Regions from separate parts of the Homo sapiens genome. Here regions 2 and 3 are each linked to region 1. The links come from fine-mapping of genetic effects on gene expression. A gene starts in region 1. Each other region holds a variant in brackets. All regions are shown on one strand. Distances are from middle to middle.

Region 1 (9,850 bases):
GGTGGAGGGATGGGTGGAGGGATGGGTGGAGGGATGGGTGGAGGGATGTGGGATGGATGGAGGGAGAGATGGATGGAGGGAGGGATGGATGGAGGGATGGAGGGAGGGATGGATGGAGGGAGGGATGGGTGGAGGGATGTGGGATGGATGGAGGGAGGGATGGGTGGAGGGATGTGGGATGGGTGGAGGAATGTGAGAGGGATGGATGGAGGGATGGGTGGAGGAATGTGGGAGGGATGGATGGAAGGAGGGATGGATGGAGGGATGAGTGGAGGAATGTGGCATGGATGGAAGGATGGGTTGAGAGACGGATGGATGGAAGAGTGGGTAGCAAGATATAGGAGGGATGGATGGAGGGGCAGGTGGAGGGATGATGGACAGACTCCAGCCTTGGGCGGAGCTCCTTTGAAGAAGCTTCAGTCTATCCCTGGGATGCTGGCTGTGGAATGAGGGTCCCCTGAGCCTTGGACCTTTTGATGAAAAGTACTGAGACCTTGCAGCAGGTCTTGGTGTTTTTTGGGGGAATACTGGACTGAGACAGTGCCCACTCTGGCTGTATGGAGGTTCTCTGGGAGGGCCTGTATGGAAAGAAACAGTCTTGAGTGAGAGGTAAACTCTCAAGCCCTTCCACTGTGGCATGTAACGCGCTAAGGGACACATGTATTCCTGTTCAGAAACCAGACCCTGGGGCTGCCCAGAGAATGAGGACACCAATTTGATGAGGGCAGCTCTGCAGAAACCCAGGGGAGGGGCGCTGGGCCGGTCGTGGACTCAGATTGTCCTGTGCCACTGCCCTTGAAATCATTATTTATCAGTAGAAAACAAAAGCAAACCTCTCAGCTGGAGGCATAGGAGAAGGTGGACCTGAGTTCGAATCTGAACTCTGCCAGTTGCATAACCTTGGCCAAGTCACTCAAGCTATGTGAGCCGACCTCATCTGTAGCACAGTACGATGACAGTCCTCGCCTCCTAGGGTGTGGGTGGTCCTGGCTCAGGGCCTGGGTGCAGGAAGGACGTGCTGAGTTGTAGGTGGAGCATCACTCGTGGTGTGAGTGACTGGGCAGAGAAGCCAGAGGGGAAGCCCAGCCATGCTGCCCACATAAGGGCAGCCACCTGTCTACCCACTCCTTCCTCCAAAGGTCTCCTCTCTGGGACCCCGAGGATCCAAGAGTCACCAGGTTTCCAGGACCTCCAGGATGCGTGGATATACTTCCAGCTGCCCTTCCCTCCTTTAAGTCAGTGTCGGACCCTTCGGCTCCCGTTTCTTAGCCTTGCTACTCCTGCCTGTACTAAGGGCTCATTTCGGTACCACAGTGGCGGGGCGGGGGGGTGTGCCTGTGGGCTCCAGGCACTGCGCTCTGTTGCTGACTCCGTATCCACGTGTTCTAGACATCAGATCATTTTCCCTCCCTCGTCACCTCCCCACCCACATCAGTGCATTAAGGGAAAGCAGAAAGTTCTAGGCGTGGAAAGCCCTTTCAGCAGCAGCCTCTATTTAGGGGTGCACACAGGTGTCAATAAGGCCTGGCGTTTGGACTTGGCTTTTTCCTGTGTTGCTGGGTGACCTTGGGCAGCTCACCAATGTGCTTGGTGAGCTGGTTTTTATGTTGGACCACTCAGTACAATAACAGTGACTAGAAGTGATGGAGTGGCTTGTGGTTTAAAGGAGGTGACCATCACCTAGGCCGGCCACTCAGACTCAAGACACAGGATTGGTTACTGCAACTATGAATGCTGTTAAAATATAACGGCTTGAAAGTGACAATGTGCGACGTAACTGCAATCTTACGTAGTGTAACGTTAATTCACATAGCGATAGTGTTAAAATATGCCACAAGTCAATAAATAAGATTATATTGCCTTTTATTTTTTATTTTTTTTGAGATGGGGTCTCACTTTGTCACCCAGGCTGGAGTGCAGTGGTACGATCTCGACTCGATGCAACCTCTGCCTCCTGGGCTCAAGTGATCCTCCCACCTCAGCCTCCCAAGTAGCTGGGACTATAGGCGTGCACCACCATGCCAGGCTAATTTTTGTATTTTGGTGGAGACAGCGTTTCACCTTGTTGCCTAGGCTGGTCTTGAACTCCTGGACTCAAGGGATCCACCCGCCTCAGCCTCCCAAAGTGCTGGGATTACAGGCATGAGCCACCACGTCCAGCCTCCGATTACATTGCCTTTTATAAGCTGTCTTTGGATCAGTTTAACGCATCTGTGGCTTCCATGAAAGAATATATTGGATTTAAAAATTACAATTACAGTGATTTGCTAGATTTTACCTCCAGTGAGGCGGGAGCCCCGAGGTGCCCATCCGCGCAGAAGAGAGACAGGGTGTCACTGAGGGCCGACTGGGTCCTTGCTGGCTGCGGAGGACAGGTGGAAGGGTGGAAGCGGGTCCAAGGAGAGGGGGCCTGGGGCTTGGTGGGGGTGGGCCAGGAGGGGGCAGATGCTGGACAGAACAGGAAGGTGGACTGCTGGGACTCGCTGCCCACATGGCTGCCGGGGAGAATGAGACAGGAGCTCAGGAGGACACTGCGGTTTATTGTTCAATGCCTGAGATCATGGCAACACTGAATTCCTTTGTGGTTTAAAAATCAACTCCTGTCCAAGCTCTCCATCCTCCATGTCACCCTCTCCTAGTCACTGCAACCATGATCAATCTCTGGTTGTCAACTCAAACCTCAGTTTCTCCTGGAAGCCTTGCTGCTCCCTCCCCGGGTGTGCCCTGCCTGGTGCCCTCCTCCGCCACCTGTGACCCTCCCCCATACTTGGGGTATGTGGCCCATGCTGGCACTTCTTGCTCCCTGGTTTAATCTGCTCGGCTGGACTGGCAGCTGCTCACTGGCAGTCTGTGTAAGCAGCTCCCCCTGGAGCCCATCTCCAAGGTGTGATGGGACTCTCGCCCCCTGGAGGTGTGCAGCAGGCAGTCCTGGCAGACAGCCCTGAGTCCAAGTGGACATGGATGGTGGTAGGATTTTCCCAAACAGCGTCCTCTCTATTAGTCTTCCTGGCATGTGCCTTGAGTCCACAGTCTCAACCTGTTCATCATTACACTCACACTAAAGGTTACAAAGGGAGCTCCTGCCCCATTTTCTTTACCTTTTATTTTATTTTTGAGACAGGGACCCACTGTGTTGCCCAGGCTGGTCTTGAACTCCTGGACTCAAGCCATCTGCCTGCCTGAGCCTCCCAAAGTGCTGGGACTACAGGCTTGAGCTGCTGTACCTGGCCCCACCAAACTTTTGTTCTTTGATTCACATCCATCCTGCCCTCAGAGCCTCCAAGGATTCTGGGAGGTGCACAGGGCCGGTGAATGTCCTATGCCGATCAGGACCTGGGAACCAGGGAGGCCTGAGTGGCTCAGGGCCACTGTGGTGAAGTCTGTGTCTCCTGAGTTGGGTCTTCTCAACGGTCAACCCCAGATTTTCTGTGCAGCCCCTCCTGGGTGCAGCCAGGTGCCCCGTGGTGACAGCACCACCAGGGGGCAGCAGGTACCCATGGCATTGTTGGCGGGCGGCTGCCTGGGTCCCAGACCTGGCTGGTCCTCTTGGCCAGAGCAGGCAGGCCCAGGACCGTGAGGACAGAGGCCCCCTTCTTGCTGAGGGAGCCACCTGGGGAAAGAGACATTTAGTGCATCAATGCGCCGGCGGTCCAGGCGAGGGGTTGGGAGAGTGGGTAGCTCTTCTTCCTCTCTGAGCCCTTTCTGTCCCAGCACAGTGGGAAGCCTCTGGGTAATTTATCCGTCCATTCTTCACAAGCAAGTCCAGTGGGAGCCGGGTCTCCCCGCTCTAGAGAGGAGGGGATGAGGCTTTGCAGGAGGAGGGATCAGTGTAGGCTCTCAGATGGGGCTGGAGGGCCCCGCTCAGGTTTCACTCCTGGCTTTCTGATTTCTTAGGGAGATGCTGATGGGTCCACCTGCTGCCCCATCTTGCTTCGGTGAGGAAAGCTCTCCCCCTTGCCCTAAAGGTGCCCACTGCTGCTTCCTCGGGGAAGGGCAAGAGACCTGAGCCCCCGCCTCACCAGCCACCTGGCCTGAGTTTACTGCTGCAGGGGCCAGCTCCTTCCTGACCTCTCTCTACGGGCCAGACCCTAAGCTGGGACCCCCTGCTTCCACCTCAGTGGAGAAGGGGTGAGTCTGACTCTGCAGAGACCAATTTCCAGGACAGGACCCCCATCGGAGGCCCTGGGCCCAGGGGACCCTCTCTGCGCTCGCATCCCCGTTCCGGCCCCTGCGCAGGGAAGCCACGGGGTAAGGGGTCCGGGGGCTGCAGTGCAGCCCCAGCTCATACAGGCCCAGGATTCCACCGGAGTCCAGGGTGGGAGCCCTCAGACACCGCACCCCAGCCTCCGGGCTGAGCCAGTCTCAGAGAAGGGCTTGGACTTGCCTGGTGTCCCCCAGTGAATCAGCAGTGAAAACCCGCGGTTCCCGGCAGCTGAGCCAGGATCCATATAATTTCAGTTGCAGAATCTGTTTGTCCTTGAAGCCCCTCCTACCGTCACACGTTGCCAGCTGGACAGACCGCGCCCCCACCACCCAGGGTGTGGCCTAGAAGGGAGATCAGGGCGGATCAGCACCGGGGCCGGCTGCGACCCTGGGCCGGAGAGCACCTTCCTGCCCTCACTCATGTCACGCATTCCGCCCTGGACGCCAGGAACTGCCCGCTGGGCAGCTGCGAGTGGCCAGGACTTTGGCCAAAAGCTGGGGAATCCTGGCCTTTATGCAGGGTCGGGGGTCTTCCTATGGGCCCCCGGCCAGGGCGGAGGACAGGAAGAGGGCTCTGGGAGTCCTGGGCCCGTGTGCCTTCAGCCTCAGCCTCGGGTATCCCGCCGGGGCGGCTTGATGGGCCAAGGGGGCTCAGTAAGCTTCGGCCCAGCCCGGTGCCCTCTCCCGAGTCTGTCGTTACCGAACGGCCATGCGAGGGCGCCCAGCGCGACAGGGACCACCTCCTGACCTCCACGGAGGACCAAAGGCACCCGGGGGGACGCCCGGCCATCACTCCACGGGCGAGGTCGCTCCCCCAGGGAGAAGGGCTCCCCAAAGTCCGAGCGCCCTTGGAGAAAGTCGGCCGGACCTGGGCCTGCGCCGCAACCCCCGCCCACCGCAACTTTCGCGGGCGGTAGCGGGGCAGGAAGTGGGGGGGCGGGGGCGGCGCTTGGGACACGGGGAGGTGCCAGGCGAGTGCTCCGGCCCCGCCCCTGCCCCGCCCGGCCGTGGCCGCGCCCCCTGCGCCCCCAGCGCCCCGGAGCCGTGGAGCCGCCGAGCCGCCGAGTCGTCGAGTCGCAGCGCCGGGCGTGGGGACTGCGGGTGGGGCGAACAAAGCGGCGGCGACGCGGGCGGCCCAGGCCCGGGACGCGCGGAGCGAGCGACCCCGCCGGGCCTTTGTCTCGGGCGGGGCAGGAGCCGCGGCGGCCGCGGGGCGCCCCGAGCGCAGAATGCGGCGCCCGGCGGCGCGGATTGGGGAGCGCTGCGGCGACTGGCTGCGTGGAGCCCGGCCCGGGGCCCGCAGGCACTTGCGTGTGTGAAGCGGGGAGATCCGGCGCGCTGCCCGTTGCCCGCCCCGCGGCCGCACGTGGGCGGGAGCGGCGGCCCGAGAGGAGCCCGAGGAGTAGGAGGAGGAAGAGGAGGGGACGCACGGCGGCGCAGCGGGGGACCTGGGGCAGCCCGCGCGAAGCCCCGCCCCGGCCCTGAGCCCCGCGCGCGCGCGGGCGGGATGCCCCGCGGCCGCTGCACTTTGGCTCGAGCACTGCCCTGAGCCGGTCGGGCCCGCGGGCGCCATGGAGCAGTGGCGGCAGTGCGGCCGCTGGCTCATCGATTGCAAGGTCCTGCCGCCCAACCACCGGGTGGTGTGGCCCTCGGCCGTGGTCTTCGACCTGGCGCAGGCGCTGCGCGACGGGGTCCTTCTGTGCCAGCTGCTGCACAACCTCTCCCCCGGCTCCATCGACCTCAAGGACATCAACTTCCGGCCGCAGATGTCCCAGGTGAGCGCCCGGCGGGCGGGAGGGCCCCGGGGAGGCGGCGTTCGCGCTGCCCGACGCGCGGACTGAACGCGGAGGTCGCAGCGGCGGCGGCCCAGGCGCCCTGGCTGGGGCGGCCGGGCTCCGGGACGCGGGCGGGCGGCTGGAGGGTGCGCCCCGGGCCTCCGAGACGCGACCTCAGGAGGCGCGAAGTTGGCCAAAGTCCCCTCAGCCTGGGTCGCGCCGCCGCCGCCCGCGGGCACTGCTCTGGTGCGCCGGTTCCGCGGTCTGCGCGGCCTGGGATGGGGGAGGCTCCGGCGCTGCGCTCGCTCTGCGGGGCCCTGCGAGTGGCCCCTCATTTCCCAGGGAGCCTGCCGAGCCGGGTGTGCGCGTCGTGGGTCGCATCCTTGGGCCTCGCGCCTCCTGGCCGGACGCCGGTGGAAGAGCGGGCGCGGTCGCTGCGCCGGCCCGGGGCGCGGCTGGAGGGCCCGGGAGGGGCGCGGGGCGGGAGCCCTCGGGGCCGGAGGGAGCTGGGTTGGCCCCGGGCACCGCCCCCTCGCCGGCCTCCGCCTCTTCCCGGACCCGGACCCGGGCCACTTGGCGCCAGTCCTGGCTCCCGGGTCGAGCCGCCTCGAGGATCCCCAGGGCCACTTGGCCCCAGTCCTGGCCCCCATCGCTTTCCCAACACCCCCACCCCTCCTTCGGGCGCTGAGTGTGGCCTTTGTCGCGGCGGAGGCACGCGTGCGGCCGCAGGGCCAGGCAGGAAAATGCCTGCCCAGCCGAACGAAGCTGCTTTTCTTGGCCTCTTAAGAGGGAACTTGGCTAAGACTTGAGAGAATCGAGGCTTCCGTCCTGTTCTCCGGGGGTCGCGGAATCCTTACCGGGAGCAGCTTAGAAGAGGTCGGGGGAGGCAGAGCGGGTGGCAGCCGGGTCCACCCAGCGCCGAGGAGGTGCGGTCTTCCAGCCAGCTCAGCAGCCCCTCACCGCGCGCAGTGGCAACTCCATGTGGAGAGGGACCATTCACCAGTGGGACTTAGGACGTGGTTCCTGGGAAGGAGGGAGAGTGAGTCACCAGCGATTCCAGGCTGGGCAGCGAGGCCTCTGCCCTTTGGCGGTGACTGCGTTTCCTAGGAGACCGGGCCTTTCTCTGCCGGGTTGGGGGGCGCTGACAAAGGCAAGCCCAGAGGGGAAGGGGCCGCCTTCCCACTGGGTAATGATTACCCAGCACTGCCTGGACCGGCTTAGCAGGAGCCCTCAGAGGCCTCCCTGGGAGCCAGCGCCTCTTCCCGCAGGATGTCAGTGGTCAGGTGCAGGTGGCGGGGGTGGCGGTCACTGCTGCAGAGGGCTTCCCCGGATCTGTTCTCAGAGCCCCACGGGGACTGGGAAGTCTGGACTCCATTTTATGGCTGGAGAAACTGAGGAGAAGGGTAGCTGTTGGGGAGCAGGGCTGGGCCTCGAACCAAGGTGGCTGCCTTTGATATGAGTTCCAGGGGCTGCCCAGGCTGACTTGCTCGGGCAGGATTCCCTGCTGCTTGCAGGCTGGGGCTCAGGGCAGAGGCAGGGCAGCTGGGTCCGCACAGAGGAGGCTTGGGAGGAGCCCAGCCTTGCCTGGTGGACTCGCTGGGTCCGGGGGCTGCCCCTCCCCAGCTGTGGTTTGGGAAGATGGGAAGAGGAGGGGGCCGTGGCTGTGGCAGGTGGCTTGGCTCAGCTCCTGCACTGGAAGTTCAAGCCAGAGACTTCCTGGGGTCTCTGGAGCCATTGGCCAGGCAGCAATACGAACCCTGACAGAGGCCCCTTGAGCCCTGCTGCTGGGGGGTGGACGGGTGTCTAGGGGTCCCGCTGCTGGGCCGGTAGAGGGGTGTTTAGGGGCCCTGCTGCCGGACTCGTGGAGGGCGTGTAGGGGCCTGGATGGTAGGAGGACCAGATGGGTGTGTGTCTGTGTGGCTCTCCGCTCTGATTGAATCCTGGCACTGTCCCCTCCCAGGTAGGCAACGACCTCCAGAGCCTCAGTTTCCCCATCTCTGTCATGAGAACAGTCATAGCAGTCCCCTCGTAGCCATGCTGTGAGGATTTGCTAAGGGCAGGCACAGAAGGCACACCCTTCGCACAGTGCCCAGGAAATGACCGTCACCTGGACTGTGGCACGTAGTGCCCTGTGTCGCTGAGGCTGATCTTGCCATCCACTCCTCTGTCCCGTGGAGGGTGGGCCACCTTTGTACGGCTGTTGCCTGCACGGGGACGGCTGCAGATGCTCCCTTAACCCTCACATTGGCTGTGACAGCCCCGCCTGTTCATTCAACGTGGAGAAACCACTTTACTGCATCTGGCTGCACACAGGGGTTGGGAGAAAGACTTCGTTTCTCTGTGTGGCTGGTGTTTGTTTTCTGGGAAACTCACTTTTTTTTTTCTTTTTGGAGATGGAGTCTTGCTCTGTCGCCCAGGCTGGAGTGCGGTGGCGCAATCTCAGCTCACTGCAACCTCCACCTCCTGGGTTCAGGCGATTCTGCTGCCTCAGCCTCCTGAGTAGCTGGGACTACCGGCACGCTCCACCACGCCCAGCTTTTTTTTTTTTTTTTTTTGAGATAGAGTCTCGCTCTATTGCCCAGGCTGGAGTGCGGTGGCACGGTCCCGGCTCACTGCAACCTCCACTTCCTGGGTTCAAGCAATTCTCCTGCCTCATCCTCCCGAGTAGCTGGGATTACAGGCGCCTGCCACCATGCCCGGCTAATTTTTTGTATTTTTTGTTTTTTTTTTTTTTTGAGATGGAGTTTTGCTCTTGTTGCCCAGGCTGGAGTGCAATGGCGCTATCTCAGCTCACCACAACATCCACCTCCCGGGTTCAAGCGATTCTCCTGCGTCAGCCTCCCAAGTCGGCTGGGATGACAGGCATGCGCCACCATGCCCAGCTAATTTTGTATTTTTAGTAGAGACGGGGTTTCTCTATGTTGGTCAGGCTGGTCTTGAACTCCTGACCTCAGGTGATCCACCCACCTCGGCCTCCCAAAGTGTTGGGATTGCAGGCGTGAGCCACTGCACCCAGCCTATATTTTTAGTAGAGACGGGGTTTTACCGTGTTGGCCAGGCTGGGCTCGAACTCCTGTCCTTGTGATCCACCCGCCTAGGCCTCCCTAAGTGTTGGGATTACAGGCTTGAGCCACCGTGCCTGGCCCACGCCCAGCTATTTTTTGTATTTTTAGTAGAGGCGGCGTTTCACTATGTTGGCCAGGCTGATCTCAAACTCCTGACCTTGTGATCTGCCCGCCTCGGCCTCCCAAAGTGGTGGGATTACAGGCGTGAGCCACAGTGCCCCACCCACACCCAGCTCTTTTTTGTATTTTTAGTAGAGACGGGGTTTCACTATGTTGGCCAGGGTGGTCTCGAACTCCTGACCTCATGATCTGCTCGCCTCAGCCTCCCAAAGTGCTGGGATTACAGACGTGAGCCCCCGCGTCCGGCTGAAACTCACGTTTCTTAAGGGGTGGGGATGGGAGAGGGAAGAAGTCATCTCCACCCTTGGTGGTTGGGTCATAGAAAAATCACATCTGCCCTTTCTTACCTGCCCTGCTGTGGCCTAAGCACAAGCCTAGGTGGGGGTTGCTGCCTGTGTTTAATAGGTGAGGCCGTCAAGGTTCCGGAGAGCTTGAGTGACTCCCCATCACCCCACCACTCCTGCCCAGAGGAGTAAGTGGCAAAACCAACATAGGGATTGCAGTCTCCCTCCCAGGACTGTTTAAATAAATGATGACTGCAGGCCTTCCTAAGCTGGCTTACTCTCTTGTGGACTTTCTGAGGGATGTCCCTGGCCTCATTCTTGGGTTTTGGGTTGTCACGGTGTGTGTCTCTTTTCATGGGGTGGCAGGGGTGGGGGGTGGGTGCCTGTGATCCCTGGCTGGTGA
Region 2 (8,000 bases), 110 kb after region 1:
GCGCCACCGTGCCCAGCTAATTTTTTTGTATTTTAGTAGAGACGGGGTTTCACCATATTGATCAAGATGGTCTTGATCTCCTGACCTTGTGATCTGCCTGCCTCAGCCTCCCAAAGTGCTGGGATTACAGGTATAAGCCACCACACCGGGCCTACTAGAATCAATTTAAGCAAAGTTGCTAGTCACCTGTGGACCTCAAGTGTGAGTTTTGGGGTGTACTTGAGCCTCACAGTGGCACTGGATCCCGGGAGGGCTTCTCGTCCGCCACCTTGGGTAGTGAGCTCCCTGTCATGGGAAGCATGCAAGAAGCTGCTGGTGGCATTGCACAGGTGACCGGAAGCCTCCCCAGGTCCAGTGCCTGAGGGCCTGCTCCGGCCGAGCTGAAACCTGCCTGCTGCTGGGCCGCCTGCCTGCCGTGGCTGGGGATGACTTGGGAGTCTCTGCTGGGCTGTCTGCCTGCCGTGGCTGGGGATGACTTGGGAGTCTGCAGGGTGAGTGGTTGTTCTATCCCCTCATTGTTTCAACATGTTCCGACGAATTTTTAAGTGGCTGAGCTGCTGCAGCAGGTCAGCAGCTGACTCGGCTCTGTTCCTCTCCCTGGCCCTGACTGCCCACTGTGGCTCACACCCGTCAGCCCCACACTCACTTGGCACACCCCGGCAGGGAGGCTGTCTCAACGGATGGGTCTCTGCGCCTTCGCTCCTCTGTGGGTCCGCCATTTGTGCAGAGAATCGTTGTCAATTACCAGGGCTCTTCGCATGATTAGGGGAACGTGAAATGAGCAAATGATGAAGGGCCCATCTGCTCCAGGAGTGGTGTGTGGGGACAGCCGAGTCTTTTGCAGGCTCAGGGACTTGACTTTCCATGCCAATTAGGAGGGAAGGATCCAGAGAGAGCAGCAGGGGGTGGGGACATAGGGATGGAGCCTGGGGAGGTTGTTCCCTGGGAAAGAGGGCCATTAGGGGGCCAAGCCTGGCATGGGGTGGGTGTGGGGCCCACATCCCGAACCCAGGGTGCCAGAGGCCTCTGGGGAAGGTGGAACCCCTGTCCCTGCAGTCACAGCACACCGTCCCTGACTTCTTGGCATGGCAGAGTCCCTCTTGTCCTCCTGGGCCTCTCAGCTGTCGCCCCCTGCTCCCTGGGGGTCCTGTCTCAGTGGCTGGCTGCCTCTGCTGCAGGGGTTCAGGGGCCCCAGGGGTCACCTTATGACATTTGTATCCCTGAGTCTGTCTGCTCTGAAGGGCTGAGCGCTGTGTTTGTGACATTTATCCTTTTTCTGGCGTCCACTCTCTGCCATAGCCAAGTATCACGGACCTGGTGCCGCAAAACAAGGGGGATTTATTCTGCCCTCTCCTGGAGGCCAGAATTCCAAACTCAAGGTGTTGTCGGCAGGGCCACGCTCCTTCCAGAGGTCGCGGGGGTGGGGATCTGACTTCACATGGCCTCCCCTTTCTCCCTATGTCTTTTCTCTTCTTTTGAGGGCCCTGGTCACAGTGGATTAAGGGCCCACCTTACTCCAGGGTGACCTCATCGTCACTCATGACATCCGCTGTGATCCTATTTCCAAAGAAGGTGGCATTCTGAGGTTCCAGGAAGGACATGAACCGTAGGGGATGCTCTCCAGCCCCGTACAGATGTCGGCTGGCTGTGACGGCAGCATGTTCGGGCCAGGCACAGCAGGGCCGCCCCTTTGGGGCTGTGAAGGCTGAGCGGACAGGGTCTGTGCCCTTGGCGGCCTGCGTGCTTCACCTGCTTCACTGCAGGGTTCAGTCTGGACCCAGCATGTTCTTTGCCTTGCTTTCTGTTTATTGACAGTCTGCTTCCTGCCCTGGAATCTCCGAGAGCTCTGCAGGGCATGGCTGGGCCTGTCTGTCCACTGTGTCCCGTACAGCCTGGGGCCTGCCACACAGCTATCTGGGGATGGCTGCCTCTTGCCTCTTTTGTTTTCGGCACTGTATCTCTTGGGAGAGGAACCTTCTGGAGAGTCAGTGGAGACTAGGTTGAAACCTTGACGCCCTCCTTTGTAGCCCCGCACACTCGCTGGGCACCTGGCAAGCAGGAGGCGTCATGCTGGGATCCTGTGCCAGGCGCCCTGGCAGGTTCTCAGCACGTACTTGCTGCGTGTCTGATCTGCGCCCTCCCCAGTGTTGCCGTGATGCCAGCCGGGGCCACTGAACTCTTCCGCCCCCACACGCTGCCTGGAGTAGTATGAAGGATGGAGTTGGTTTTGATAGGACATTAAATAATTAATTCCTGTCTGGGCTGAAAATATAGAATATTAAATTATACATTTGGTATCAGACACATGAGAGGGCCTCTCAAAGTTCCCGGCCACTTGTAGGCCACCCTCAAGGACGTCTGGGACCTCGGCGGTTTCCAGTGGCTGGCTGCCAGGCCCACCATGGATCTCAGGCCTTTCTCTGCACCTTCCCCCTTCCTTGTGTTCCCAGCTGTGGACTGTGTTCCTCGTCAGTTCCTCGTCTCCACCTGCTGCCTCTGCTGGAGGCTCGAGCTGCCTGGGAATCCGTCAGAGCTTGCCTTGGAGACTCCTTTGCAGCCTTCATGCAGGGCCTCCCCTCCTGTCACCCAGGCCCCTGATGGGATGCAGGAGAGCTGGGCGCTCCTCCTTCTCAGTCCTGTTCACAAGCCCCGTCTCACTGGGAGGAACCTTGTGGGGCAAGTCCAGACACATTCCAGAGGGCCTTGTCCCACGTCTGCGCTCCGCTATCTGCAGATAGCATCATGCCTGCGGGAAGGCCGCATCTCTCTGTGTCTGGAGCCCATGGCTCCAAGGCAGCTTTTCTGGGGACAAGTTCTCCGGGTCGTATGGTGGGAAGCCCAGCAGCCTGAAGGCCAGTCCTAGCTCCACCACCTCGGGCCCTGTGCCAGCAGGGCCTCTCTCCCTGCCCAGCCTCTCTGGGACGTGGGTGGGCCATGGCCCCCAGCTCTGGGCTGCTGGCCCCTTGCTGAACCTGCCCCTGTATGGAGGGGGGTGTTGCTGCCCCCGGGAGCACCTGACAGTGGGGGGACTGTGCTGTAGCCACCGAAGGCAGCACCTAGGCTCATGCCCAGGGATCCTTGCAGTTCACCTGCCTCCATCCTGAGCCACGGCCAGTGTCCTGGAGGGCCGACCGCAGAAGCTGACCTGCTGCCCACCTGACCTGCCAAAGGGGCAGCCCCTGCTTTACCTAGATATTTTAGAGCAGTTTTAGACTTAGCAAAATTGAGAAGCTAGTGCAAAAGAAGATTGTATTCCACACCCGGGTCCCCCATCCATACCTCACAGTAGTTGGTGCTTTGGTTACAATGAATGAACCAGTGTGGACACATTGTCACTAACTGAAGTGACTCTGGCTTCCTCAGTTTCCCCTTTATGTCCTCTGTCCCAAGACCCATCAGGGACTGCACATCACATTCACTTGGCCATCTCTTGGTCCCCTGGGCGGTGGCATTGGCAGTGCCCCCCGCACCCACCCCTTCTTCATATACAAGATTCCTACTGGAGAAGCTGTCCCTGGTGCTTCGTGTAAAAGGCATCTTTTATAAAACCATCGGTCAGATCCAGCCTTTTCTGACCTGGGAGTTCCCCATGGCTGCCCCTAAGGCCATTGTCCTTCCCTGCCCGCCTTTATCATCTCATGAGTCCCTGAGCCTGGCTGACAGGTCCCTCACCACCTGCCTGGTTCAGAGGCTCCCTCTCAGCTCAGCTGCTTCCTGCCCACTCTCCCTCCCCGTGCTGCCTGCCGGCTCTTTCCTCCGGTGGGGCACACAGAGCTTCTTGGGGACACACCTTGTACCCTGGTGTCCAGGGCTGCTCGTGAGTGCCAAGTGGGCAAGGGGCTGGTGGAGGGATGCCTAGCCCCTCTTCCTGCAGACGGCGCAGGTGGGTCCAGGTGGGTCCTTCCTTGGCCTGTCTTCCCCATGCAGCGTCTCTTCTTTCTCCTCTACTTCCAGATGGCCTTGTCCTTATCCGTGTCCTCACTCTCATGGTTTAGAAAATCTTTTCTGGGAAAAGTGCATTTTTGAATCCTACCCTTAGACAGGAAAAGAAAAATCCATAAAGTGGCCATTTTGGGAAGTCCCTTGATGGGCCAGGATTAAGCAGTCATCAAGGTAAAACCGCTTGGAAGCAAATCTGGATGCCAGAGCTTCGTCTGCGGCCGGTTTCCATCTGTTTCCATAAACACAAAGCACCGGGGAGGAAAAATCACTTTAGACTTTTTTCCTGCAGGGGCTCACATTGCACAGATCGGACTTGCAGCTCGCAAGGCGGTAGGGATTCTCGGATAGGTTCTGCTTTGGAAGGGAGAGCAGGTTCTTGGTGGTTCATCTGAGCCAGCAGTGCTGTTCG[T/C]CCTGGTGTGTGCGGCTTGTTGCTTAGATTTGCATTTGGCAGAGGACTCAGATGTGCACTTGGTTGCCCTGTGGGTCTGTAATGTCAGGTGCTCAAGGCTGTGGCAGTGCCCCGGGGCCACCTACTGATCGATGCCTTCTTATAGGAGGCTTGCCCACATTTATGGTGAGCCTCTGACACACACTTGTCCATCCTGCAGGCCTCAAGGTGACAGCAGCCCCTCCAGAGGGCCTTCTCTGATTCCTGGACATCTCCTGCCCCTTGCTTTGCTTGATTAGGGACTCTGCTGGACTCCCCTGCTTCCCAGCTGCTCTGTTCTTTACCCTGCGGCATTGATCACACCCTGCTGGTTCCTTGGAGCTCCAGAGGTCACCCTAGCACAGTGCTTGGTACGCAGCAGCTGCTCAAAGTGTATTGCACACCTGAGTGAGGAAGCAAGAGCCCCCAGAGGGCCTCGTTACAGAGGAGGGCCTGGGGCGCAGAGAGCTCCGGCACTGCTGCGAGTCTGCAGCTGAGACGGGGTCCAGAGCCAGGTTCAGCAGCACAAGCCCGGCCCGGTCCCCTCTGGAAGACTATGTCACAGGATGCCTGGGATGGGGGCGGATGATGCCTGGGGAACGGGGGGATCCTGAGGAGACACCTCCCTGCCCCTGCCCCACCATGCTCCTGCTCCATGGAGTCAAAGGCTGGATTTGTTGATCTCTCGAATGGGGCGACCCGACCCTGGGGAAAAGGTTTCTGCCCCTGCGGAGGAGCCTGGCATATGTGCAAAGGAGGCCAGGCTGCCCGGGCCGAGGGCGCTTCCACTCCGAGTGCTCAGCTGCTGTCCCTGGCCCCTGCCCCCACTGCCCACAGCTTTGCACACCCATTGGAAACCCACTGGCTGGATCGGGACCCCCTGGTGTGGGTGGCGGGGACGTGGCCACTGCTTGGGGGATCCCCCTGCGGTTGTGACTTCCTGGGAATCCTCCTCCTGAGACGGGCGGCAGGTGGGGTCAGCAGGGATGGCCTCTCAAAGGTTAAGCTCTGTCCTGTGACAGACATGCACAGAGGACTTGGCGGTGGTGGAGGTGGGGGCTTGCATCTGCAGGAGGGGCAGCAACGATGATGGTGACTGCAGCGGGGCAGCCGTGGGCAGTGTGTTGTCTCCCTTACTCTTGCGGGTGCCGCTGCCCCCATCTCACAGCTGAGGAAACCAAGACTCTGCCTCACTCACCATGGGCCACCTGGCTGGGGATGGATGGGGAGCTGCGTTGGCCAGATTCTGAACAATCTTAGTGCTCAGTTCGGTCAGATCCTTTCAGAAACACACAGCCTCGATCGTGCTTGGGTCGCAGTTGGCTCTGTAGTGCGTGTGGTTCGTGTGAGGCCTTCCTTGTGTGGCTCCTACGGCCGCAGAGGTGCCAGCAACCTGTCCCTGGCCTCTGAGCCTCCCCTGGCTGCCACATGTCAGCAGAGGTGCCTGCCCCGTGGTACACCCGGAGCATCTGTGAGACGCAGGCCGGCGGAGAGTGCTGAGCTCAGCCCTACGCTGAGACTGGCAAAGAGACTTCGCCTGCTGAGCCTAAGGGCCTGGGTGGGCCCCACACCCTCCTTCACCGTCAGACAGCCTAGGGGAGAAATAGTGGGGGGTGTCGGGGGGCCAAGTGCTTTCCCAGGCCCTTCCAGGCACTCCTGCGGGAGTTCAGAGCAGGAGCAGGTGTGGAGTTGACGTCGCAGAGGAGATTCACGCACCTTCCTGTCCTGTGTTAACGCTTGCACTTAATAACCGAGTTACTAAGTCATCGCTTCAGAGATAAGGGTAGACACTGGAAAGTTATTGCCGTAGTGTTAGAGATACAGTTATTAGTCCCCTTCCCATTAAAATGGCCATTAATTAGGGAGGCCAGTGAAGCCACTGGAAACCCATCAGCCCCTCCAGGTGATGGCTACTGTCACCTGTCCCCATTAGCAGACTGGGAACGTGCAGTGGATGACCAGGCCATGAGAGGGGGGTTCTGGGGTGAGGCTCAGTCGGGAGGCTGAGGCCTTTCCTTCTGGGTGCTTTCCCTTTAAGAGCTTGCATCAGACCATCTAGCTGATGTGTGCAGGTGACCACTCTGACCCTCAGTTTCATCATTTGACAAGGGGCATAGTAACATTGACCTCATTGGGTGGTTGAGGATTCATGGAGGCAGTGGGGTAACTTTTGAGCCCAGAGCCGAACGTGTCACCCAGAACACAAGCACTGGCTCTTCCAAGAAGGTTCCTGGCAGTGTGATGGTCCCACCCTGCTTGTGGGCAGTGGCTGATTTTGGGCTTGTCCGCCTGGCCAGTGGATTGCTGTGTGTCTGGGGTGTGGGTCCCAGCTTTGTGGGCTGCATCTTGGCATCGTTGTGCAGAGTGTGGAGTGTGCCAGTTACCTGCTGGGGAAGAAAGGCGCTGGCAACTGTTTGAGGGCGGAGGGAGCCTCTCCTCGTACAGCCAGGGCATCCCGAGGCCAGAGGAAGGTGGCAGAAGGGGGTCTAGCAGGCCGGGCGGGGGTTCTGTGGGAAACAGAAATGGGGTGGTGGTGGCTCAGATAACCACGTGCCTCTCAGCCTCCCCTTTCCCCAGGTGGGTGGGGAGGGAGACTCGGGGCAGGCAGCGACTTGCTGAAGGCCACACCAAGGGTTTAAGCTCAGCCTTGCCCAGACGCCAGCCCTGGCATCCCCTGCCTTCCCCTCTGTAGCTGGCCACTGTGCGTCCAGACCCCGGTGGCCAGCCTCCCCCATTGTCCCCGTTCTTCAGGCCAGCCCTTTCTGTGTCTCCTGGCAGAAAGGACAGAGATGGTTTCTCTCTTCCCTGCCTCACCCCTGCACCCAGGCAGCCTTGATCAGCCTTTTAAACAGTTCTGGCTGTGTCCTCTCTGGCTGTGTCCATCCCTGTGGCCTCCTGCCCAGGCCTTCCTGCCATCGTGCACCTGGCCTGGTTAGAAGACTCCTTGGGGCCGCCCCCCTCCCGCGGTCCTGCCTTCCCTCCACCCAGTATCCTCTTTGCAGCCTGAAGCATCTCTCAAACACCAGCCTGACCCTGCACTCCCACTGCCCCAGGCGAGGCCAGCTCCTTGGCCCTGTGTCCGACAGGCCTCCGCTCTTTGGTCCCCTGTGTGGCCATGGCCGCTCTCCGGGCCTGTGCGTGGGCTCTGCCCCTGCACGTTCTCCTGGCCTTGGCTGACTGGCTGCTCTCCCTCAGTCCCAGGGGGCCTGCCTTCCTTAGGGGAATAGTCTTTGCTCCACACCCACCCCGTCCCTTGCCCCCTACCACTCTTGTCTCCACAGCGCCTCTGCTGGCAGCGGTCAGTGGTGCTGGGCGTGGGAGCAGGGCGTGCCTGAATGGGGCCATCCCAGGGGAGATGCATGCTCCTTTCCAATATTGTATTAGTCAGGGTTCTCCAGAACAGCAGCGCTGATAGCATATGGATAGATAGGAAGATTTAATACCAGGGACTGGCTCACACGATCCTGGGGGCTGAGAAGTCCTGAAACCAGCTGCTGTGAAGCTGGAGGTCAGGAAGGCTGGTAGTGCAGCTCCAGTCCTGATCCGAAGGCCCAAGACCCAAGGGGCCTGATGGCGTGAGTCCCAGTCTGAGCCCAAAGGCCTGAGAACGACGAGCGTCGATGTCCGAGGG
Region 3 (8,000 bases), 210 kb after region 1:
CAAGTTGACTGGGACTATGTGACACCAAAGCTGTCCTTGCAGCCTCTGGGGCTGAGACCTTGGAAGGAGACACTGAGCCTGTGCCTCGAGCACCTCCCAGGCAGGGCCCTGTTCGTGTCTTGAAGCATTTTCCTCCACCTTTTCCTGTCTGTGTGGACACTTTGAAAGCCACGCAGGGAACATGTCAAGAGAAGCTCTCTCTGAATCAGAAGAGTCACAGAGACAAAACCAGACAGACAACGAAAATGAACCTCAGCGAACCACACAGGGGTCTGAGTCGAAGCCTCACCCTTGGCAGGACCCCGGCCCCACCCGCCCTGCAGCAGATAGGCGCTGTTTGTTCTCTCCTGAACGTGGGGCTTGGGCTTCTGGCTTTTCCGACCGGGTCCCGCTTGGGGCTCCACACAGCGGCGGCCTCTGTGAACACAACCGGCACCGTCAATCGCCCTTTGTCCCCAGAGCTGAAGGGAGCCCCTTGGCAGGGCTGGCCAGGAAAGGGAGAGAAGCTGCCAGGCCCAGTCCCTTCCCGGTCTTCTGCACCCTCCCTCGTCCATCCTGAGCACCAGCTGGGAGCCACAGGGGCTGTTTCCCTTCGTCCCGCCTCTGCTGCCTGTGGGGAGTTCCCTTGGGTGCACGACAGTCTGCCCTGCCCGTGCGGTCAGGAGAACTGGGGCTGCTCCAGCCCCGGCTGACGGCCCCTCTCCTTCTTCCCAGCAAGTGAAACTGGAGGAATTTGGAAGACCAAAGATTGACGGGGAACTGAAAGTCCGGTCCATAGTCAACCACACCAAGCAGGACAGGTGAGCAGGGCGCGTGTTGTGGGCTGGGTGGCGTCCCGCCAGGGTCTGGCTCTCCCTCCCAGGGAGCCACTCCTAAGTGGCTCTGGAAGCCAGGCCTTCCTGTGGAAAGAGCTGCCTGGCGGTGGCTTTGTGTTGTTCAGTTTTAATTGCTTCCTTCCTTCTCGTCAGCGAGCGGGCGCCACAGCAGTGGGGCTTTTGTGCCTGTGGCGGGCACCAGGCTGGGCTGGGGCAGCCAAAGATGAGGGCCAGGCCCCTCACTGCCAATGCTCAGCCTCCAGGAACCCAAGACAGGCCCAGAGTGGTCGGATGGGCTCTTTGCCAAATGACTGCCGGAGAGTGTCCAGGCGCACGGTGGCCCAGGCTTGTCCAGGGCCCTCCTTGTGCACCTACTGTGTGCTGGGGCAGGGGTCACAGCAGATCTGGGTCCCACCCTCTTGAGGCTCCCAGTCCAGCGCGGGATCAACTGGGAGTAGCCGTCGGGGGTCAGTGCTGCATGGGAGGCCAGCGTGGGGGATGCAGGAGCCCCTTGAAGGGCTCCTGGCACAGCCTCAGTCACGGGGGTAGGGAGCCAAGGAAGGCTTCCTGGAGAAGCAGTGTGGGAACAGCCGAGACCTGACCGAGGCTCAGCATTAGCCTGGTGAGCCAGGTGAGGGCAGGGCTCGCCCGGAGAGGGAGCCGCGTGCCAGAGCCTCAGGCTCAGCTCCTGCCGCCTCCTCGGAGCAGAGCACACAGTGCTGGGGTGCTGATCCCCCGCTGCGCTGCCTGGCCCAGGTACTTGTTCCTGTTTGACAAGGTGGTCATCGTCTGCAAGCGGAAGGGCTACAGCTACGAGCTCAAGGAGATCATCGAGCTGCTGTTCCACAAGATGACCGACGACCCCATGAACAACAAGGACGTCAAGAAGGTGGGGCCTTCCGGGTCCCCCCTGCTACCCAGGAACGTGGGGGTGGCCTGGAGAGAGGCACTGGGTTCCAGACCCCAGGGGAAGGGGACTCGAAGTCAGCCGCTGATGCTGGCCGGGTGGGTTGGGGTGGGCGTCTCCGCTCTGCAGGAAGGCTCCTCTCTGAGTCACTGCCTCGCCGTCGTGACCACTGCTCATAGCAGGCCTGCTCCTCGCCGGGCCCAGCGCCCCCCAGAAAGGTGGGCAAGACCAGAATCCCACTCCCCAGTGAGGCGACTGAGGCAGAGGGGAGAGGCCACCCCAAGGCCTCTAGTGAGGGTGGGACTTTCAACCTTGGCTTTCCATCTGGCCAGCCTGACTCTAGCCCATGTTGTCCCTTGTAGCAAGCAGGCTTTCCTCTCCCGTCCCACCCTGCGGTGCTTGGAGGAGGGCTGTGGGTAGGTCTGGCTGTGGCTTGTCCGAGACTCTACATGTAGCTGGCTGGGGCCTGTGGCTGCTGGGGTGGGGCCAGGGCTGCAGGGGTGGGGCCTGTGGCTGCTGGGGCGGGGCCAGGACTGCAGAGGTGGGCCTGTGGCTGCCAGCGGGTGGGGCCAGGGCTACAGGGACGGGGCCGAAGCTGCTGTGGGGCAGGACCATGGCTATAGGGCTATTGCTGGCTGGCTGTCTGGTTCAGTCCTGCTTCAGCTGAGGCTTCTGCCCATGGCACTTGAGCAGCTACCGTGTGCAGCCCTGGTGGGGTGGGGGGCGGGGGTCAGGAGCCCTTGTTCTGAAAGTCCAGTCCCTGGCCTCCAGGGCTGGCAGTGTAGCCCTCGTCCAGACCCAGCAAGTGCAGACTGGATGAGCTGTTGAGGGTGACCCTCCCTGCCCTCATGCCCAAAACAAGTAACTGGGGCCCATGAGGCAGTCCTGCCACCAGCACCCAACACTCTGGGAAGAAATTCCTTTCCCCACTGATCACCCCACCCCCAGCCTGGGCACTGGGGGGTGTTCCACCTGCCAGGGCTCCTGGCGCCTCCACACTGCGGCACCCACCACAGGGCCGGGCTTAGCCTCTCACTGACCGTCTTCCCCTTCCTCTCCTCTCCATGCTTCCTAGTCTCACGGGAAAATGGTAAGCACCTAGCGCCCAGGTCCTCCCACCTGCCTCAATCATCCCAGCCTGGTGCTGGCACTTCTGCCCGGAGCCAGGGGACCCAGGGGCCTGAGGGGCTGGGCTCAGGGTTTTCTTGGTCCTTCGTCCTCCACTCCCTTTCCCGATGATGAAATGATTTGTATTCATGATGAAAGGCTTGCCCGCTAAGACAGTGTGAAAGGAAAACTCCGTGATCCTCAGTCCCTGGAGCTCGGGGTCAGAGGCTGGGGTTTCTTGGTCTCTCTTCAGCTCTCCATCATCCTTTTTGTTTTTCTGTGTTCTCTCCCTCCTCCCTCCCTCTTTCTCCCCTTTTCCTCTCTCTTTCCTTGTTTCTTTCCTCCTCCCATCCCCGCTCCACGCTTCCCCTCTCCATCCCTCCCTTCGTTCCTCTTTCCCGCCATCTTTTCTAACCCAGTAGGCTCCTATTTGCCAAACTCTTTTTTCTGGACCACTTTGAAAGCCCTTTGTCCGAGAGCTCGGAGAGATGGCGAGGCCTGTGGGGTGGCCGAAGGGGAGGCAGGGAAGGGGGCAGTTGTGGGTTGCTCAGTCGGGGATGGCTTCACGGGGGGTGCCCCAGGCCCATGGCTGTTCCCTGCCTTTTTGTTGTTACTGTTCTACTTCAGAGAAGTGAGGTTTTTTTAGCATCACATTTAGGAAGTGAAAGTGGGTGGTCAGGCCTCGTGGAGGGGCCCTGGGTGGGGCCCTGCGCTCATCCTT[C/T]CTGGGATCCTGCCCCCGCTTAACATGCATCTACATATGCACTCGGTGGAGCATCCTCGCACATGGGCGCAGGCAGGAGTGCAGACCTGCCCAGGCATGTGTGTGTGCACCCACAGGAGAGCACCCACAGGAGAGCACACACAGGAGAGCACCCACAGGAGAGCTCACACAGCATGGGTGCATGTGCATCATACGTGTTAGTACATGTGTGTACCTGCAGGGACAGATACAAGTGTGTGTGTGCACATGCTCACAGGAGCACTGGGCACACTCATGCACAGGTGCACACGCATAGACACGCGTGCAGGCACAGATGCACACCCATGCACGCAGGAGCACACTAGTATGCATGCAGAGGTGAAGGCACAAGCGCATATGTATTCTCACGTGAGGGTATGGGCACACAGCTATACATGCATGCATACAGAGGCACGTGTGCACGTACAGCATGGGCAAGAGAGCAGGTACACACGTGAGAACATGTGTTCACACAGGCACAGGCACCTGTGCACATATGCATATACACACGTGCACATGCTGCACAGGCGAGAGTACACGTGGACATGTGCCAGGATGTCTGAAGCCGTGTCTATTGCAAGCATGGCCCCTCTCCCCCCTGCAGTGGTCCTACGGCTTCTACCTAATTCACCTTCAAGGAAAGCAGGGCTTCCAGTTTTTCTGCAAAACAGAAGATATGAAGAGGAAGTGGATGGAGCAGTTTGAGATGGCCATGTGAGTTCCAGGGCGGCAGCCCCCAGGTCCCTGGCAGATGAGTTGTATGGGGGGTGGAAGCCCAGGTGGATTGTGTCTGTGGTTCCTCTCAGACCAGGGGCGGTGGGAGGCAAAGTTGGAACGTCAGGGACACAGACAACCTCCATCACCCCTGGGACGCCAGCCTCAAGCAGTGACATCCTCTTTAACAATCAGTCCAGAGTGAGAGGGCTCTCCCTCTGCCACAGCCTGTCCCAGGCAGGCTCCGCTGTCCTGCTGGAATGAGCCATCCCACCCTTGAGGCTGAGCCTGGCACGCCCGGCCCACAGAGCAGTGACCGGCTGGGAGTGGCCATGATGCCAGAGGATTCCTGGTGACCCCAGTCTTCAGGGTCTTACGGGCTGGCGGCTTGTCACCTGTTTTTGAAGCCACAGAACTATTTTTCCATGAGATCCAAGAGGACTCATATCCTAGATATGTGAAACAGAGAAAGATGATGAACGGGTTCCCGGAACACGGACCCTGGAGGGCCAGCAGGGTTGTCTGTGCTTGAGCTCTGCGGGCAGGTGAGCTGGGGCCTGCAGGCAGGTGCACTCGCCTCTCTGACCGTTTCTTCTGGTGAAATGGAGAGGGGAAGGCCTGTGTTCTGGCCTTTTTGGGAGGATCGAAAGGGAACCATTGGACACAGCAGGGCCAGGGCCTGGCTCGTGAGAATAGATGCAGCCAGCTGGTTTGCACCCAGGCTCTGTGGGGGAGGCCTGGGGCATCTTCTCTTCGGCCACTCGCTTTCCATGGCCTGTAATTTTCTCCCCAACATCCTATTGTGCAAAAGTTCAAGCGTTCATGGAAGCTGAAGCGACGTGATGGTGAATAGCCGTCTTCTCACCACGCTGCCGCCATCCGCGTCACCCCACCCCACCCCAGCCATCCAACAGCGGGTCTGTGTCAAAGTGAATTGCACACCAGTGCAGCCCCCCTGAGTACCTCAGGGGGCCCAATATTTGTTTAGCTTCTGAAATTTCAAGCTTATATCCAATGAGGCAAACAAATCTTAAGTATATGTTTTCTGAGTTTTAACAAATACCCACACCTGCCCACATCCAAGCCCAGTCAGGACCTTAGACCACCGTCCCCACCTGGAAGGTTCTCTCAGGCCAGTGCAGCAGTGTTAAAGCTTCTTCTCTGACCTGCCTTCTACGAGCAGGGAGTCTGGGCCCTGAGTCTGCCCCATGTTGCGGGCAGAGCCAGGCTTGGAGTCCAGGCCCTCTCGGATTCTGCACAGCCTGGGTCCGGAGCCCAGCTGGTTCCCAGGATGGCCACATGGTGGGGCTCGGGGAATCCAGTGGGTGTAGCATCTGCTCTCTTTCCCTCCTGCCAGGTCAAACATCAAGCCAGACAAAGCCAATGCCAACCACCACAGTTTCCAGATGTACACGTTTGACAAGACCACCAACTGCAAAGCCTGCAAAATGTTCCTCAGGTGTGGGAAACCCCCTGCTACAGCCCTCACCTCGCTCCACGCCCAGCCCAGGCCCCTGAGAGAGCTTAGTGTTCTATCTGTCCCATGTTCCCTGTGGGAGGCCCTGAGGGGTTAAGGGAGTATACCCCACAAGAGTCAGGCCCGTGCCAGGCATGGTGGCTCAAGTCTCAGCACTTTGGGAGGCTGAGGCAGGCGAATCGCTTGAGCCCAGTAGTTCAGGACCAGCCTGGCAACGTGGCAAAACTCTGTCTGTACAAAAAATACCAAAGTCAGCCAGGCGTGTTGGCCTGCTCCTGTGGCCCCAGCTACTCGGGAGGCTGATGTGGGAGAATTGAATAAGTCCTGGAGATTGAGCCTCCAGTGAGCTGTGATGTCGCCACTGCACTCCAGCCTGGGTGACAGAGTGAGACCCTGTCTCCAAAAAAAAAAAAAAAAAAAACGGCCCAGCCAAGCCCTTAGAGTTTCAGATCTAGCCGGGAGGTGATTGTTCCTGGGTGCCCGGGATGCTGTGTGGGGCAGGGAGGCAGGCTGGTGGAGGTAGGGGAAAGCAGGTGTCAGGCTGCCTGGTAAGGGAGGGTCCTGGATACTCAGGGCTATGAGGGATGTGTGTGCTGGGAGACAGCCAGCCAGGTGAGCCTGGGTGGGGACAAGGGCCTTGACCTTGGCAGAGAGGCATGAGGAGCCGACCCCAGCCTCGACCTCACCTCCTGCCCTCCCCTGTGCAGGGGCACCTTCTACCAGGGATACATGTGTACCAAGTGTGGCGTCGGGGCACACAAGGAGTGCCTGGAAGTGATACCTCCCTGCAAGTTCAGTGAGTACCCCCCTCACCCCCCCACCCCAGTCCCTGGCCACGCCTGCTCACTTCTGCCCCCTACCACCTGGGTACGGGCCTCGGGCACCATCTCCCACGGGGCAGCGACCAGATGAGGGCACCAGTGCTCACGTGCCCCAGAGCAGACACCAGACGCCTGCCGCACGTCACACACTTAACAGGAGACACAGCCGGGATGAATTCCATTCCAAGCCCTCTCTCCTAATGGGTACTTGAGGACCCCTCCCCATCTCCTGCATCCCCTGCCCCACTCCAGGAGGAAGCTTCTAGAATCTCCACCCCCAAACACGGCACAGAACATTCTCAACAGGTGCATGGAGGTTTCTCATCACAGAAACACCGGTCACCCTGGGTTCTCCCGGCGGGTGAGGCCTGGCCATCAGTAGCTATAGCCATGTTAGTAAATGGTTCAGACACACACACACATGCACGCATACACACATGGCACTTACAGTGGTTCCCTTCTGTTCATGCCCATTTAGGGAAGCTTGAGGCTCAGGGAGGGGAGAGGATTGAGCCAGGCTGGCAGTGGGCAGAGGCAGGGATGCGCCCTGGAGGCTCCTCTGAAGCACCTTGGGTCGGGGGCATACCTTTGGGGTTGTGCCCTGCTCAGGGCAGCTGGACAGCAGTGCAAAGCCTGAGACAGTTCTCTCCTGAGAGGTTTCAGACATCAGGATGTCACCTCCATCATCAGCCCCAGAAACTGAGGCTTGAAACTTTCAGCAATTTGTCTACACTTATTAGCAGAGCTTCTATTCAACAAAGAGCCCCCGGTGGCCCCAGGCCGAGTCTCTGGGTCTTGTCTCCTTGAGCCTCCTGAAGGTGTCTTAAGGCAGAAAAACAAGTCAGGCCAGCTTGTCACCCAGAGATTGTCACCCAGAGACGCCATTGCCCAGAATACATTTTGAGCTGTGATTTTAGATCAATGGTTAATTCACCATTTACTGTGAGTGCCAGCCCAGTACCCTAACCTGGGGAGAGGGCCAGAAGGTCAGCCCAGACCCCCTTGTCCCCATCACAGGCCCAATGCAGCCCCCTAGCTGTGCACAGGATCCCGCAGCCCCTGGAGTTAGTGCTGGAGGATTCCGCAGGCAGCCTGTGGCCTGAACGCAGCTTTTCAGCTGTGCCCATCAATACTGCCCTCTCGTGGTCGCATGTCCCCAGACGATGGCTGCAGCTACTTAGAATCTTTTTTTGCTTTCTCTGATTCTAAAGGTAATGTTTACTTATCAAAAATTTGGAGGAAAAAAAAAGAAATGAAATTTTAAAGAAAGTATCACCCGTGAACTTACCTAGAAATGATGAAAGGCAATGTTTCGGTATATTTCCTTCCAAGTTTTCTTTTTTTGTAATCTTTCTGTTCCTCCCCCGCCCCGCCCCCGCCGGATTATTAATTACTGATTTTCCGTAGAAAATTTGGAAAA

What was found.
Region 2: its variant is fine-mapped to the expression of VAV2 in monocytes (Quach 2016, PIP 0.95).
Region 3: its variant is fine-mapped to the expression of VAV2 in whole blood (TOPMed, PIP above 0.99). The same link has a PIP of 0.9 or more in blood mononuclear cells and monocytes.

What each region holds. Positions count from the first base shown.
Region 1 is chr9:133,988,203-133,998,052 of GRCh38, reverse strand. It overlaps VAV2 (vav guanine nucleotide exchange factor 2), which reads left to right and starts at 5,729. Exons shown (of 30, transcript NM_001134398.2): 1 at 5,729-5,978. The coding sequence starts at 5,775. RefSeq lists silencers at 3,470-3,569, 5,017-5,326, 5,427-5,526, 5,587-5,736, 6,007-6,096 and 1 more and enhancers at 4,417-4,606, 4,503-5,230, 5,959-6,686, 6,687-7,414, 7,415-8,142 and 2 more.
Region 2 is chr9:133,876,006-133,884,005 of GRCh38, reverse strand. The region is part of intron 2 of VAV2 (vav guanine nucleotide exchange factor 2); the gene reads left to right. Among named protein-coding and RNA genes, the nearest start is that of VAV2, 110 kb to the left of the region's middle. RefSeq lists enhancers at 730-1,463, 6,604-7,337, 7,338-8,000. The variant T/C (reference allele first, on the strand shown) is at 4,352.
Region 3 is chr9:133,782,058-133,790,057 of GRCh38, reverse strand. It overlaps VAV2 (vav guanine nucleotide exchange factor 2), which reads left to right. Exons shown (of 30, transcript NM_001134398.2): 14 at 715-800; 15 at 1,572-1,704; 16 at 2,798-2,812; 17 at 4,173-4,282; 18 at 5,640-5,741; 19 at 6,467-6,555. Among named protein-coding and RNA genes, the nearest start is that of SARDH, 48 kb to the right of the region's middle. RefSeq lists a silencer at 2,110-2,269 and enhancers at 2,556-3,108, 3,380-3,789. The variant C/T (reference allele first, on the strand shown) is at 3,551.